Homo sapiens: one gene and its partners. The protein of the gene in region 1 interacts with the protein of each later gene in a pairwise test. Each region holds a gene or a part of one and is shown in the gene's direction. Other genes may lie near its edges.

Region 1 (2,746 bases):
GAAAACATCTGAACAAGTGAGTTTGATGCATGGATTTGATTGCTTCTTGTCTTCCTTATGAAATATTCCACAATTTTTTTGGTAAACTGGTATATTTGCTATATCTGTCATTCAAAGATGCAGATAATTTTTAATGGTAATCTCTTATATTTGTAGTGCTTTTTAATGTGATTTTTATGACACTTTTTAAGACTTTCACATTATTATCCCTCTCATGCCTCATAACTCTGTGCGACTTTGCAGGGCAGCCAGTTCTATAGATGAGGAAATTGAGGCTTAGGAAAGTTATATTTGCCTAAGCCATATTGTATTGAGTGGCAAAGCAAACTAGAATATTGATCTTTGACTCCATATTCGAACCTCTTTTCTCTACATCATTTTTCTTACATTGCCGTCCTATCTTGCACTGCCTGCTGAGGTCAGTATAATTTATGTAACATTATTACATCTCTAAAGGTTTGTATTTCTTTCAAACACCATCAGAAACATCAAAATTTTTTGAAACATGAGCTGAAACATGAGAGTAACATATTGTTACTCTTTGAGAAAAGGGAGGATCCTCCTTTATCAAGTTAATGCCATGTTTTATGCTTGGATAAGGGCTTATCCACTTGGCCTTTGATCTTGTGACTGTCACCTGTAACTGAAAGAGTAAGTTACTTGTCTGACAACTTGTAAGCAACTAAAGATGTCAAAAAAAAAGTTTGCTCTATTTTGTCTGTACTGTGATGTATGTAATGAATGAACCTTTTTAGATTAGATGGGAAGCTCTAGAAATTCAAGGTACATATCTGTTTTACCTACAGTATACTTAATGCCTATCATAAGTTTCAAATTAATATGGATTTGAGCTTTGATTAAAAACTCAGTATTAATTAGCTGCCATCTAACAATATTTTTTTCTAGAAAATACTGTCTAACATATCTCTTGATTTGCTTTCCAGGTTGCGGAATATACGTTATGGTTTTAATACTATCCTTGTGATCCTCATCTGGCGCATTTTTATTGCAAGATCACAAATGGCAAGAAATATCTGGTACTTTGTGGTTAGTCTGTGTTACAAGTTTTTGTCATACTTCCGAGCATCCAGCACTATGAGATACTGAAGACCAAGGATTCAGCATTAGAACATCTATACATATGGTGATCTAAATGTACAAAATGTAAAATGTATAAGTCATCTCACTTTTTGTCAAGACATTAAACCATCTTAGATCGGAGTGTGAAGTAAATTATGGTATATTTTATGTAACATTTTAATGTTTATGCTCATAAAACTTAGTGAACACACTGTGTTATGCCAGCTCAAATCTACAGTAGCCACCAAAACCATGACTTAATATTTTGAGCCCTAGAAGAAAGGGGTGTGCTGAGGACAAGAGTGGGGAAATAGGAACACTGACCAGTATAACTGTGCAATTCTGGAACATATTAATTAAAATAATATGCCTTAACATATAGTGAATTTCTAATTCTAATGTTCAGTGCAATGGAAGACATTTATTTGGACAGTAATACTAGCAAAGTTGGTAGATATTTGATTCTTCATTTTTTGTTTTTTTCATTAGTTGAAGTGGGTTTTAGTTTTGTTTAAAATTATAACCAGCGTATTTTCACATCATTCTGTAAGTTAAATGATATCAAACATGAAAGAGATGTTCTCATTTTTCTTTTTCTGATTAAACGTCTGATGCATATCATTTTTCTATAAGTAATCAGTTGCTTTTAAAATCAGAAGGCTATATTATTCTAATGACCCTATTCGATCTAAATGGGTTTGAGAATCCATATCAGCAACATACGTGTTTTTTGACAGAAAGTGAAAACAAATTCCGTAAAACTGTTAGTATCAAAAAGAATAGGAATACAGTTTTCTTTTCCACATTATGATCAAATAAAAATCTTGTGAGATTGTTTATGTTTTGAAGCAGGAGGATTTCTTGAGATTTGATGGAAGTGGGAGTTGGGAAGGATTCACCATACTTGTGTTCTCCTCCCTTTATAAATTTTATTCATAGGACTTTTAAAAGGCTTGTGCTATCTTTCCAGTGAAAACTGAAAGTGCATTATTATGGAAGAATGTATTTGCAGGTAGTAATAGCATTAAAAAATATACTCGTGTGTAAACACATACTAATTTTGACCTTGAAAGATGAATTCCTTCAAGAAAAATAAAATAATGCTTAAGATAATGTGTACGAAATTAAATAAAGGACTTTATTTACATACTACATAAGGTAGCAAACTGTTGAATGAGTTTGAAGGTATCACTTATTTTTTATGCATGTGATTTTAGCTTTAGAAAGAAATGCGTTATAGAAACAAGTAATAGCAAGAAAATTGATGTATATTTTAATGATACATTAAAATTCCCTTTTAATCATAATAGTTAACTCTACTTACTGTTTTAACATACATTTGATTTAACAAATTGTTCAGCATAACACTTCTAATTAAGTTTATCAAGTTGTACTGTATTAGATAATCAGCAGTGTATCTGGAGTATGTTTAAAGAGAACAGTTCGCAATACAAAAAGTTACATGGAGCTTTACATCTTAACTTTCTTTGTCAATTTAAATGCAATGTATAAAAAGTTTATTTTGCTATTGTGAAAAACTAAATGTAAAGGAAATCACCTACTTTCATGCAGGTGTATAATCTTGAAAAGGAAAAATGCTTCCATGTTGAAGCCAGATTTTCTGTAGTAAAACTTTTAAATATTATTTTAAAAGAAATATGTATAT
Region 2 (3,657 bases), on another chromosome or scaffold:
GACTACAGGTGCCCGCCACCACACCTGGCTAATTTTTGTATTTTTAGTAGAGACGGGGTTTCACCGTGTTAGCCAGGATGGTCTCAATCTCCTGACCTCGTGATCTGGCTGCCTTGGCCTCCCAAAGTGCTGGGATTACTGGCATGAGCCACTGCGCCTGGCCTGAAAGGTTCTGAAAGGTTTTAAAAAACTTTTACAAAGATGCATTCAATATAGTAAATAATATATAGTCAAAATAAGTAATAAACACGAGGAAAACAATTTATATTCATGAGATTTGCAAGAGTATGTGCAGTTAAGGAATGAAGGCTTTAGCCAATACCTAATACCCTTTTACTAAACTCTTTTTTTTTTTTTTTTGAGACGGAGTTTTGCTCTTGTTGCCCAAGCTGGAGTGCAATGGCACGATCTTGGCTCACTGCAGCCTCCACCTCCCAGATTCAAGTGATTCTCGTGCCTCAGGCTCCCAAGTAGCTGGGACTACAGGCGCACACCACCACGCCTGGCTAATTTTTGTATTTTTAGTAGAGACGGGGTTTCACCATGTTAGCCAGGATGGTCTCGATCTCCTGACCTTGTGATCCACCTGCCTCAGCCTCCCAAAGTGCTGGGATTACAGGCATGAGCCACTGCGCCTGGCCTGCTCAGGTCTTAGAAGCAAGCACAGAGGTCGGGGTCAGGGAAGCTGATTCCCATGACATCCCTGAAGCTGTGCTCTGTCTCCCTGGCCAGGCTCTGTCTCCCACAAGTTCCTGTCACTACCGATGTTGGTTCGCCAGCTTTGGGACTCTGCGGTGAGCCACTTCTTTTCTCTGCCCTTCAAAAAGAGTCTCCTGGCTGCCTTGATCCTCTGTCTCCTGGTGGTGAGATTTGATCCAGGTAAGAGGTGGAGACTCTCCCCTGTCCTTCCTGGGAAGGGGTTGTTGCCAGGGCTGGGCCTGTGGGAGTGGGTGTTTGTCAGAGTCCTACTGGGGAGGGGAGTCTCTCCTATGACATTTCCCCTGAGTCTGTTCCACAAGGAGGAATTGCTAGACTGGGCATGAGCCAGCCCCACCCATAAGGAGAGGCCAGTCCTGGAGTCTATGAGAGCAGCCAGGAGAAAGTCCACTTGGCCCTGCTGACTCCTGAACATGGACTGAGTCATAGTCCTCCACTTTTTCTAGGGCTGAACTCTGACTAGAACCTCAGAATTTAAAAAAACTTCCTCTTGGCCAGGCACGGTGGCTCACGCCTGTAATCCCAGCACTTTGGGAGGCCAAGGCAGGCAGATCACAAGGTCAGGAAATCGAGACCAGCCTGGCCAACATGGTAAAGCCCCATCTCTACTAAAGATACAAAAAAAATTAGCCAGGTGTAGTGGCACATGCCTGTAGTCCCAGCTACTTGGGAGGTTGAGGCAGGAGAATAGCTTGAACCCGGGAGGCGGAGGTTGCAGTGAGCCAAGATCGCACTGCTGCACTCCAGCCTGGGCAATAGAGCGAGACTCTGTCTCAAAACAAAAAACAAAAAACAAAAAAACTTCCGCTCATCAGAATATCTACAAAAGTGTTAATTCAAGTATTAATGTCTCATGAAGTGTTAATTCAAAGCAAGTTGTAAATGAAAAACTCATACATTTTAGAAAATGTGGAAAATAGGCCGGACATGGTGGCTCACACCTGTAATCCCAGCACTATGGGAGGCCAAGGAGGGTGGATCACCTGAGGTCAGGAGTTCGAGAACAGCCTGGCCAATATGGTGAAACCCCGTCTCTACTAAAAATACAAAAATTAGCCAGGTGTGGTGGTGCGTGCCTGTAATCCCAGCAACTGGGGAGGGTGAGGCAGGGAGCATTGCTTGAACCCAGGAGGCGGAGGTTGCAGTGAGCCAAGATTGCACTGTTGCCCTCTGGCCTGGGCTACAAGAGCGAAACTCTGTCTCAAAAAAGAAAAAAAAATGTGGAAAATAGAGAAAAGTATAAAGAAGGGCATAGAAATCTGCTACTCTGCTGTGCTTTCAGTCTTTTTCTATGGATATAGAGATTGTAGGCAGTTACATGTCACACATATGCTTTCAAGCATGGCCTTAAATCGCTAACTATTCCAGTTCACAGGAATGCCCCTAAGTAATTTAACAACCCCTATTATTGAACATTTGGGTGATTATTCTGTTTTCTGCCTCGCTGTGAAGAAGGAATGAGCTCCCTAAGTGATATTTGGGAACAACCCCAGTTATTTCCTGAGGATTGACCCCTCAGGTGCATGAAGCCAAACTTGGCACTCGCTCTTTTAGATTTTTTTGTGTTACTCAGTGTGAGTTATGTTCTAATCTCTACTCTTCTCATGAATTTAGACTTAGAATATGATTAAATAAGTTTCAAAATTTAAGAGGAAATCAGAAACCCTTATACTGGTCCCTTCAAATGGTTTGTCTATTTTGAGAAGTGCCATTTGTTAACTTAGTCTTTAGATTCTCCCTGTTTCCCCATTTCTCTTTCTCTTATTCAGTGAGCTTTTTTAAAATATTTATTTATTTATTTTTATTTTTATTTTATTTTATTTATTTAGTTTTTGATACTGGGTCTTTCTCTGTTGCCCAGGCTGGAGTGCACCGGCGTGATCTTGGCTCACTGCAACCTCTGCCTCCTAGGCTCAAGCGATCTTCTCTCCTCAGCCTCCCAAGTAACTGGGACTACAGGCATGTGCCTCCATGCCCGGCTAATTTTTTATTTTTATTTTTGAGACAGAGTCTTGCTCTGTTGCCCAGGTTGCAGTGGCGTGATCTCGGCTTACTGCAACCTCCGCCTCCTGGGTTCAAGCGATTCTCCTGCCTCAGTATCCCAAGTAGCTGGGATTACAGGCACACACCACCATGCCAGGCTACATTTTGTATTTTTAGTAGAGACGGGGTTTCGCCATGTTTGCCAGGCTGGTCTCCAACTTCTGGCCTTAAGTGATCCTCTCACCTCAGCCTCCCACAGTGCTGGGATTATAGGCACAAGCCATCATGCCTGGCCAGCGAGGTTTCCGTCACATAGCTCAGAGTTGTCCTTCTAACCCGTCTGCTGAATGCTGAGCAGGGATCCCCTGTGGACGACTCTGTTTGCTTTACAAAGAAGTCACGAGTTAGCGCTCGGAATGCTCAGTATCATCAGCGTTCATCCCTGGCCACCTCCTGACTGATACAGATTTAGAAACTCTTTATGATTCTTTATGGTTCCCGTAAGCCCTTTAGTCTCGTAAACCCTGGTCTCCTAGTGGGGATGGCATGAGGACATTTGAGCCTGCTCTTTCCAAGGCTGCTTCAGAAGGGCCTGGCCCAGTGGCCCTGACCCTCAGCAGCAGGCCCGACTCATTGGAGTGATGATGGTGGGGGAGGAGAACCTGCACCTGCAGGCTGAGGATCGCATGAGCCCCAGAGATTGAGGCTGCAGTGAGCTGAACACAGACTGCACTGTACTCTAGCCTAGGTGACAGAGCGAGACCCTGTCTCTAAAAAAAACAAAACAAAACCAACTATGTGTAATTGGTAGTGGAGTCTCCCAGGGTGGGAGATGGCAGAGTGACAGGTGAGAGGGGTGGGACGTTCACTGTAGTCTCCCTCTGCCCTGCAGCTTCCCCTTCCTCCCTGCACTTCCTCTACAAGCTGGCCCAGCTCTTCCGCTGGATCCGGAAGGCT
Region 3 (3,657 bases), on another chromosome or scaffold:
CCGCGTCCAGCCTTAAACTTTGTTTGTTTGTTTGTTTGTTTTTTGAGACAGGGTCTTACTCTGTCACCCAGTCTGGAGTGGAGAGGTGTTATCACAGCTCACTGTAGCCTTGACCTCCTGGGTTCAAGTGATCCTCCAGCCTCAGCCTCCCGAGTAGCTGGGACTATAGTCATGCACTATGATGCCCAGCTAATTATTTTTTGTAGAGGTCGGGTCTCGCTGTGTCGCCCAGGCTGGTCTTGAACTCCTGACCTCAAGTGAGCCTCCCACCTCAGTCTCCCAGGCTTCTTTTACTTAACACATATTTTTGAGATTCATTCATGATGAGAACAGTGACAGTTTATTATCACTGCTTTATACAGTTATTGTATGAATGTGTTTGGCCATTTATTATTAACCATTCTACTCTTTTTTTTTTTTTTTTTTGAGACAATGCCTGGCTCTGTTGCCCAGGCTGGAGTGCAGTGGTACGATTTCGGCTCACTGCAAACTGCTTCCCAGGCTCAAGCCATCCTCCTACCTCAGCTCCCCTGGTAGCTGGGACCACAGGCGCATGCCACCACACCTGGCTAATTATTTTTGTATTTTTTGTAGAGACGGGGTTTTGCCATGTTGCCCAGGCTGGTCTTGAACTCCTGAGCTCAACCAGTCTGCCCGTCTGGGCCTCCCAAAGTGCTGAGATTACCAGTGTGAGTGACCACATCTGGCCACCATTCTACTTTTTGTTTTTTGAGACTGAGTCTTGCTCTATCACCCAGGCTGGAGTGCAGTGGCATGATCTTGGCTCACTGCAACCTCTGCCTCCCAGGTTCAAGTGATTCTTCTGCCTCAGCCTCCTGAGTAACTGGGATTATAGGCACTGGCCACCATGCCTGGCTAATTTTTGTGTTTTTAGTAGAGACGGGGGATTCACCATGTTGGCCGGGCTGGTCTCGAACTCCTGACCTCAAGTGATCCACCTACCTTGGCCTCCCAAAGTGGTGGGATTATAGGCGTGAGCCCCTGCGGGTGGCCCATCTTACTTTTTTTTTTTTTTTTGAAATGGAGTCTCGCTCTGTCACCGGCTGGAGTGCAGTGGCGCAATCTCAGCTCACTGCAACCTCCGTCTCCCGGGTTCAGGTGATTCTTCTGCCTCAGCCTCCCAAGTAGCTGGGACTACAGGCATGTGCCACCATGCCCGGCTAATTTTTGTATTTTTAGTAGAGATGGGGTTTCTTCATGTTGGCCAGGATGGTCTCGATGTCTTGACCTCATGATCCACCTGCCTTGGCCTCCCAAAGTGCTGGGATTACAAGCATGAGCCACCGTGCCTGGCCTGAGCCATTCTACTTTTAATGGACATTAGATTGTTTCACCTTTAGGGTCATTACAAATAGTACTGCTGTGAAAATACCTGTACGTGTCTTTTTGTGAACATAATATGTGCATTTCTGGTGAGTTCATCTACGTTTTTTATTTTTTATGGTATTGACATGTTTGGAGAGTCTGGACTACTTGTTTTGTGAAATGTTCCACCATCTGGATTTGTCTGATTTGTTCCCTTACATTTAGATCCGGGTTAAACATTCTTTTGTGAGAATATTATGTAAGTGACGTTGTGTCTATCTGTGTATCATATCTGGAGGAACGAGTCCCATTGTCGAAGATGAAGTTTGATTGTTTGGTTAAGGTGGTGTCTATCACATTTCTCCATCATAAAGTTAACTTGCTAAATTAGTTGCTTTCTTTGCAACTTTGCTAGTATTGTTTTAAATTTTTGAGACAGGGTCTCACTCTGTCACCCTGGCTGGAGTGCAGTGGCACAGTCATGGCTCGCTGCAGTCGTGACCTCCTGGGCTCAAGTGATCCTCCTGCCTTGGCCTCCCAAAGTGCTAGGATTACAGGTGTGAACATGGCCAAGTTTTTCTTTTTTTCTTTCTTGAGATGGAGTCTTGCTCTGTCTCCAGGGTGGAGTGCAGTGGTATGATCTCGGCTTACTGCAATCTCCACTTCCCAGGTTCAAGCGATTCTCCCCCCTCAGCCTCCGGAGTAGCTGGGACTGCAGGTGTGCACCACCATGCCTGGCTAACTTTTTATATTTCAGTAGAGACGGGGTTTCACTATGTTGGCCAGGATGGTCTCAATCTCCTGACCTCATGATCCACCCGCCTCGGCCCCCCAAAGTGCTGGGATTATAGGCGTGAGCCACTGCGCCTGGCCTGGCCAAGTTTTTTTTTAGTATTTTAGTTTAATATTGTATTGACTGACAAAGTCTTATGGCCTAAACTTTACTGTGGAATTCTAATAGGTGTGTTGTGATCAGTTTGAGTTTTGACAAATTGTATATACGTGTGTAACCACTACCACCCTAAACCTGTGTAACCACCACTGCCACAAGCAAGATCAACAGTTTCAGTATCCCTAAACGTTCCCTTACGCCCCTTCCCATTGAATCCTTGCCTGTGGTCCTAGGAAATCTGAACTGTTTTCTATTACTATAGAGTATATTTGTCCCTCCTAGAATTTCATATGAATGAATTATGTATTCTTTTATGTCTTTTTTGGCTCAGAATAATGTTTGTGAAATTTATTTGTGTTATGGTATGTATCAGTAATTATCAGTAATGAATTACCTTTTTTTTTTTTTTTTTGAGATGGTATTTCGCTCTTGTTGCCCAGGTTGAAGTGAAGTGGCTCAGTCTTGGCTCACTGCAACCCCTGCCTCCTGGGTTCAAGAGATTCCCCTGCCCCAGCCTTCCAGTAGCTGGGATTACAGGCGCCCACCACCATGGCCGGCTAATTGGCTAATTTTTTTGAATTTTTAGTAGAGACAAGGTTTCACCATGTTGGCCAGAGTGGTCTTGAACCCCTGACCTCAAATGATTTGCCCACCTCGGCCTCCCAAAGTGCTGGGATTACATGTGTGAGTCACTGCGTCCAGCCAATTTTTTTTTGTTTAGTAGAGATGGGGTTTCACTGTGTTGGTCAGGCTGGTCTCCAACTCCTGACCTCATGTGATCCAACTGCCTTGGCCTCCCAATGTGTTGGGATTACAGGCGTGAGCCACTGCGCCTGACCATGAATTACTTTTTACCGCTGAGTAGTATTCCATCGTATGGATGGCTATATCTCAATTTGTTGATCTGTTCACCAGTTGATGGACATTTGTAGTAGTTTTTGATTCCTGCGTAACAGTATTACCACAAATTTAGCCGCTTGGCACAGCACACATTGATTATCTCATGGTTTCTGTGGGTCAGGAGTCAGGAAACCACTGGGCTGAGTCTCACCAGGCTACTATTGAGAAATCTGTCAGGACTGTGGTCGCTGACTAGGGAGGGGTCTGCTTCCTAGCTTGTGTGGTTGTTGGTGGCATTCAGTTCCTTATGGACCATGAGACTGGAGACTTTAGTGTGTTACTGTCAGCCAGCGGCCGCCCTCAGTTTCTTGCCAAATGAGTCTTCCCACTTGCCTCCTCAAAGCCAGCAGAAGAGAGAGTCTCTTAGTAAAGTGGACATTACCACGACGTATCTCACCCACATTAATGCAGTCACGTACATGCTGTCACCTTTGCCATATTGTGTTGGCCAGAAGCAAGTAACAGATCCTGGCCACATTTGAGTAGAAGGAACAGCACAGGGGCATGGATACCAGGAGGTGGGGATCATGGGGTCACCT

Evidence for each region.
Region 2: the proteins of FAR1 (region 1) and PEX26 come close enough for resonance energy transfer, tested with the Homo sapiens proteins (one large-scale study listed by BioGRID).
Region 3: the proteins of FAR1 (region 1) and PEX14 come close enough for resonance energy transfer, tested with the Homo sapiens proteins (one large-scale study listed by BioGRID).

The regions. Positions count from the first base shown.
Region 1 is NC_000011.10:13,727,668-13,730,413, forward strand, and holds part of FAR1 (fatty acyl-CoA reductase 1), read left to right. Parts: coding exon 1-16; intron 17-944; coding exon 945-1,107; 3' UTR 1,108-2,746. UniProt on the Homo sapiens protein: Catalyzes the reduction of saturated and unsaturated C16 or C18 fatty acyl-CoA to fatty alcohols. It plays an essential role in the production of ether lipids/plasmalogens which synthesis requires fatty alcohols.
Region 2 is NC_000022.11:18,084,380-18,088,036, forward strand, and holds part of PEX26 (peroxisome assembly protein 26), read left to right. Parts: intron 1-732; coding exon 733-879; intron 880-3,592; coding exon 3,593-3,657. UniProt on the Homo sapiens protein: Peroxisomal docking factor that anchors PEX1 and PEX6 to peroxisome membranes. PEX26 is therefore required for the formation of the PEX1-PEX6 AAA ATPase complex, a complex that mediates the extraction of the PEX5 receptor from peroxisomal membrane.
Region 3 is NC_000001.11:10,481,416-10,485,072, forward strand, and holds part of PEX14 (peroxisomal membrane protein PEX14), read left to right. Parts: intron 1-3,077; exon of another isoform or gene 3,078-3,622; coding exon of another isoform or gene 3,623-3,657. UniProt on the Homo sapiens protein: Component of the PEX13-PEX14 docking complex, a translocon channel that specifically mediates the import of peroxisomal cargo proteins bound to PEX5 receptor.